Linked DNA regions of Homo sapiens: region 2 is linked to region 1. Evidence: fine-mapped expression QTL. A gene starts in region 1. The other region holds a variant in brackets. All regions are shown on one strand. Distances are from middle to middle.

Evidence for each region. PIP is the estimated chance that this variant, and not a neighbour inherited with it, causes the effect. A credible set is the group of variants that fine-mapping cannot tell apart.
Region 2: its variant is the best candidate, but not a certain one, in a credible set for the expression of TRIM52 in monocytes after Pam3CSK4 (Quach 2016, PIP 0.77).

The regions. Positions count from the first base shown.
Region 1 is chr5:181,259,642-181,262,540 of GRCh38, forward strand. TRIM52 (tripartite motif containing 52) reads right to left here and starts at 1,502. Exons shown (of 2, transcript NM_001346048.2): 1 at 360-1,502. The coding sequence starts at 1,172. TRIM52-AS1 (TRIM52 antisense RNA 1) reads left to right here and starts at 1,571. Exons shown (of 3, transcript NR_102762.1): 1 at 1,571-1,743. RefSeq lists enhancers at 1,203-1,252, 1,433-1,482 and silencers at 1,623-1,772, 1,883-2,132.
Region 2 is chr5:181,289,048-181,291,946 of GRCh38, forward strand. No RefSeq gene overlaps it. Among named protein-coding and RNA genes, the nearest start is that of TRIM52-AS1, 29 kb to the left of the region's middle. The variant G/A (reference allele first, on the strand shown) is at 1,245.

The sequences.
Region 1 (2,899 bases):
GTCCCAGGGAATTGGTCAAGGACTCACATTAGGGAGAAATGAAGTACTGGGTATCTGTTACTCACGTCCCTTACACTTAGGTAGACTGCCAGTATTAGCAGTAGTGGTCCGCTTCCAGTGACCGTCATATTATCTGTTCAGCTTCCTCTGGGGAAGCCAATCTGCCCCAATCTTCATGGTTTTGTGTCTCCTTTTTTACCCATATGACCATCTCTCTCCACCGTGTCTCCCTCATCAAATAAAGAGAAGTTTAGCAACTAAGTACCTGAGGAGGTGGGAAAGGAATGCTACTCATTCCTCAGCTCTCCTAGTTACCTTTCCACTCCCTTCATCCCCCCACATTCCCTCATTTCTCTCACCTGGTACTCCTGCACCACCTCCTCCAAAGGCAGCACGCTGTGCTGTTTGTGGCTCCTGGATTCTCGGCACACCACACAGATGGCCTCTTTGTCCACCTCACAGAAGAGTTTCAGGGCTTCCTGGTGTTTAAAGCACATGCCCTGATCATTACTCCGGTTTCCCCGATAAGGAGTGGGGCACATCTGGCGAATTATCTGGACCATGTTGGCCAGCTGCAAGTTGGGACGAAAGCTGCGACGTGTAAAGCTCTTTCGGCACTGGGGGCAGGTGAACTGCCCTGGAAGGGGCAAGGAAGGAGGCGGGTGGATGTCAGGATACAGCTCTTCATCTTCGTCCTCATCGTATGCTTCCAGTATTTCTTCTTCTCGGTAGACATCAATTCTCAGGTCAGGTCTCAAGCCTCCTAGGTAATAGTCCTGATCTTCCTCTTCTTCTTCTTCCTCCTCGTCCCACATATAGTCTACGTTGTCCCAATTAGTTATACCACTGTCACCGAGCCAGAGTTCATCGTCATCTTGGTCTTGGAACAACTCTTCGTCAGCATTCCCCCGATACAACACCTCTCGAATGGAGCCGTCCCATCCATCCATGGCCCCCACCGCTTCCTCGTCCTCCTCCTCCTCCCATTCATCTTCCTCCTCGTTCTGGTCCTCCTCGTCCTCCTTACTCCACAGCTGGGTCACACACCCTCGGCAGAAGTTGTGCCCACAGCTGATGGACACGGGGTCCTTGAAGTAATCCAAGCAGATGGCACACACCGCTTCCTCCTGAAGGGTCTGCATGGGGCTGGGAGTAGTGGCATAACCAGCCATCTTAATGCCCGCCGGCAGGTGTAGATACGTCAGCTTGGAGCTGAGGAGCGGGGACGCGCCTGCAGGCCTGCCTCCAAACTACTCTGGTGACCCGAGGCTGTCCTCAACCTTGCTCTTCTTCCTCGGGGCCGCAGGGGAGCTTTGACCCCCTCTCTCAGGGTGCGAACGCCCAGATCCAGACTCACAGCCTCTCTCTGGGATCGGTGGGGACAGAGCAGGCTGCAGCCCCCAGCTGCTCGGTCCTGTCACGTCTCTCGCTACCCTCAGGGTGTGCCCTACACTGCGGCGTCCGCCTCAGATGCAGCCGCTGGCTACCCTGCCCGAGGCGACGCAAAATGACGTCTCGCTCCTGCACACGCTCTGGAGAGACGCTCTAGGCCGGCGGAGGACCACGTCTCTATGGTGTGCCGGGGGCCGCGCGGGCCGGGAGTTGGGTGGGCTGGGGGACAGGCGCGCCCGCGCCGCCCGCTCCAGCTGGGCTAGTGCTGCACATTCCGGCCAGCCCCTCCTCAAGACCCCATTCCCAAGCCCCTTCTCAGCTCCCTCGGGCCGGCAGAGCGGCTCTGATCAGGTCAGCGGCGGACGCCGGGAAGAGGCCCGGCTTGGGAGAGGTGGTTTGGTGGGTTGGCTGGTTCTAGATGGTGGGGGGGTCAACACTTGAGGGGGACTGGGTCTCCGAGCCGTTGTCCAGCCTGAGCCGGAGCCCCAGGAAGGTTAGAGGGAAGGGGGATAAATCTCTCCGGAAGCCCCGCCCGGGCCGGGGCCGAGTTGGTCCGCGGCGGTGGGGAAGCCTGGGACACCACCCTGGTGCTGTCGCCCGTCCCGCCGTCCGCGCTTGGGGTGCCTTTGTGGGGATCCGGGCGCCGCACAGCTGGGAGGGCCTGCCGCCCGGGAGGCTCGGATCCGGGGCGCCCAGTGCCCCCCGCTGCCTTCCGTGAGCCGTCGGGCCCCAGCTCCACGTAGGCCTCAGACCCAGCCCTGTTTCTGCTTGCGGGGCCGCGGCTGCGCAGTATTGCGGCGTCTGCCAGCAAAGCTGCGCCCCGGTCGTGGGTCCCCTGAGGGGGCCGGGGCTCAAGTTCCCTTCGGTGCTGCCGCCTGCGTCGGGCCAGGGTTCCGAGTTCCAGCCCTGAGCTCTGTGAGCTCGGCCGGGAGGGGGCTGGATTTGGGACCACACTTCCTCACCGCCGTGGTTTAGACTTAGTTTGAGAGCGGCTGGCCCCTCCTTCCTGTCCCGGTGTCCTCCGCTGTCTGTTATGCCCTTCACTCCTCCCTGGGGAGGGAGGGCTGGGGGCGCTGTCTGGGTCTGTTTTCCACCCCAGCGGGGCCCTAGGGCAGTGTCATTTAGACTCCACTCTGTCACCTTTCCTGGAGAGGGGACCTGATCCAGGGCTGAGAGGTTTTTTTTTTTTTTTTTTTTTTTGAGATGGAGTCTGGCTGTTGCCCAGGATGCAGTGCAGTGGCGCGATCTCGGCTCACTGCAAGCTCCGCCTCCCAGGTTCACGCCACTCTCCTGCCTCAGCCTCCCGAGTAGCTGGGACTACAGGCGCCCGCCACCACGCCCGGCTAATTTTTTTTTTTTTGTATTTTTAGTAGAAACGGGGTTTCACCCTGTTAGCCAGGATGGTCTCGATTTCCTGACCTCGTGATCCGCCCACCTCGGCCTCCCAAAGTGCGGGCTGAGAGATCTTACAGTGGGAGGGGGAATCAGGCCCTGGGGAAAGGCTTCT
Region 2 (2,899 bases), 29 kb after region 1:
AAGGGCCCCCTCCTGGAGTTTGAGGCCCACTCCCTCCTGCCCCTGCCTCTCCTCTGTCCAGGACTCCTCCCTGCTCTGCCCCACTCCTGGGGCCATAACCATGGGGAGCTGTGGTTTTCTACAGGCCCCTGGGCACAAAGTGGGCAGGCTCACCTGGAGGCGATCAGAGTAACATGGCAGGAAGTGAGGGGGAAAGCCGCCCTGGAACTGCGCCTCTCTGCCCCCTGACGTCACTGGCGTGCACTCCTCCCTCCCCTCATTCAGGCAGTGGCATGAGTTCCATGTGAGCGCTGTCCTGCTCCCTCTGCTGCCTCTTTTTTTTCTTGGGGCTGCCATAACACTTTCCCTTCCCCAGCCCTGCCAACCTGGTGGGACATTGGGCTTCCCTCTCACAGGGTCCTGGGGACAGGCCCATCCTTTATCATACGCACAGAGAGACCGTTTTTTCCTTCAGGACCTGGGGAGCAGCCAGGTTCCATGAGTTAAATGCAGATCTGAACCAAGCTGGGATTGGGGTACACACTCTCCTCTACTGAAAAGTAGCTAGGGATTCCAACTAGGTGAGAAGGAGAGTGGGGCAGAGCCAGACCAGACAAGGACTGATCACCTGGAAAAAGCCTGCCATCAAAGGTCTTGGCAAATGCTGGGTGCAGTGGCTCACTCCTGTAATACCAGCACTTTGCGGGGCTGAGACAGGTGGACTACTTGAGGCAAGGAGTTCGAGTCCAGCCTGGGCAACATGGCAAAACCACATCTCTACTAGAAATACAAAAATTAGCTAGGCATGCTACACTCCTGTAATCCCAGCTACTCAGGAGACTGAGGCAGGAGAATCACTTGAACTGGGGAGGCAGAGGTCGAAGTGAGCCGAGATTGTGCCCCTGCACTCCAGTCTGGGAGACAGAGTGAAACTGGCCTCAAAAAAAAAAAAGAATATGGCCTTGGCAGAGAGGGGCCAGCCCAGCAGTGCCTTCCCTTGGGTTTCTCCTGGGTAGGCCTCTGCCATGAGGAGGTGCTTCCTTCTGCCTGTCCATGGCCCACAGCAATGGAATGTCTGCTTCTGGGGGTTGGGTGGGAGACTGCTGGCAGAACTGGAAACCTTCAGGTGGGGTTTTTTTGTTTTGTTTTGTTTTCGAGATGGAGCGTCGCTCTGTCACCCAGGCTGGAGTGCAGTGGTGGAATCTCAGTTCACTGCAACCTCCGCCCCCCTGGGTTCAAACAATTCTCCTGTCTCAGCCTCCTGA[G/A]TAGCTGAGATTACAGGCATGTGCCACCATGCCCGGCTAGTTTTTGTATTTTTTGTATAGATGGCATTTCACCATGTTGGCTGGGCTGGTCTCGAACTCCTGACCTCAAGTGATCCACCCACCTCGGCCTCCCAAAGTGCTGGGATTACAGGCATGAGCCACTGAGCCCAGCCCCTTCAGGGGGGTTTTGAGGCTTCACTACAATACTAGTTTCCTGTGGCTGCTGCAACAAATTACCACACACTTAGTGACTTAAAACAACCAAAATGTATTCCCTTACAAGTCTGAAGGCCAGAATTCTACAGTAAGTCCTTCTGAGTCAAGGTGGGAGCAGGGTTGGTGGCTTCTGAGGCTCTGCGGGAGAATCTGTTTCCTGGCCGTAGAGGTGGCCTGCACTCCTCAGCTTGTGCTGCCCGTCTTGAATGACTGGAGTTTCCTGCTTCTGTCACTACACCTCCCACCCTCTCCATCACCTGCTCTGCTCTTACAAGGATCCGAGTGAGTACATCAACCCCAAAAGCCAAAGACCCTTAACTTCATTATATCTGCAAAGCCCCTTTTGCCATATAAGGTCATGTTCACCAGTTCCCGGGATTAGGATATGGGCATCTGGGGGGCATCAGCCTGCTACAGCTAGGCTGCAAAACTGTTACACCCTCCTGGTGTTTCAGTGATTGGGAGAAAAAGGGTTGGCATTTTTTGCTTAGAGGTCCCTCTTAAACTTGTATCTGTAAGGTCGGGGGTCCCTCTTAACCTTGTGTTTTTGTTTTTGTTTTTTTTTGAGGTGGAGTCTTGCTCTGTCATCCAGGCTGGCAGTGGCGTGATCTTGGCTCACTGCAATGTCTGCCTCCTGGGTTCAGGTGATTCTCCTGCCTCAGCCTCCTGAGTAGCTGGGACTACAGGCGCCCGCCACCATGCCCTGCTGTTTTGTATTTTTGGTAGGGACGGGGTGGGGGTGGGGCTAGGGAGGGGGCTTTTGGCTATGTTGCCCTGAGCTCAAAGTGATCCGCCTGCCTCTGCTGCCAAAGTGCTGGGATTACAGGCCTGCACCACTGCACCCGGCTGCTGTAAAGTCTTATTTCACACAGCTGAGACATGTTTTAGGAAGTTTGCTAAAAGACCCCTGGAGACCGCCTCATTGTGACCTCCCTGTTATTGTGTTTAATTTGATTGAACTTCTCTGCCCTCCTGCTTTTCAGCTTCTCTAATAGTCTCCCATTAAACCATTCTAAGAACCACCAAAAAGGGGAAATTTTTTCTTGAAAGCAGTAAAATGATATGGACTGTTAGAATGTAAAATATATGAAATCAGTCATTATACGTTAGTGCTGCTCTGACATAGGGACGTATTATTGAGAAGCAACTTTTGCTTGATTTTCAGAGAAATGGAATCATCGTATCGCTGATCTATGTAAACAAACTGAAGAATTGTCTGAAAGAAAATATGGTATGTCTAAACTGGAAAAGTCCTGTAATCTTATGTTCATGGGCGTTTACACAATGGAGTTACTGTTCATCATGGGGGTACCGTGGACAAGCCCAGGGCTGCCGGCGAGTCATGCCATCCTTACACGTTTCTCCTTGTAAGGTGCTTTGTAGTGTCTACACACTTTGTTTCTAGATTGCTGCAAAGCTGAGGAAAAGTTGTATTTCTT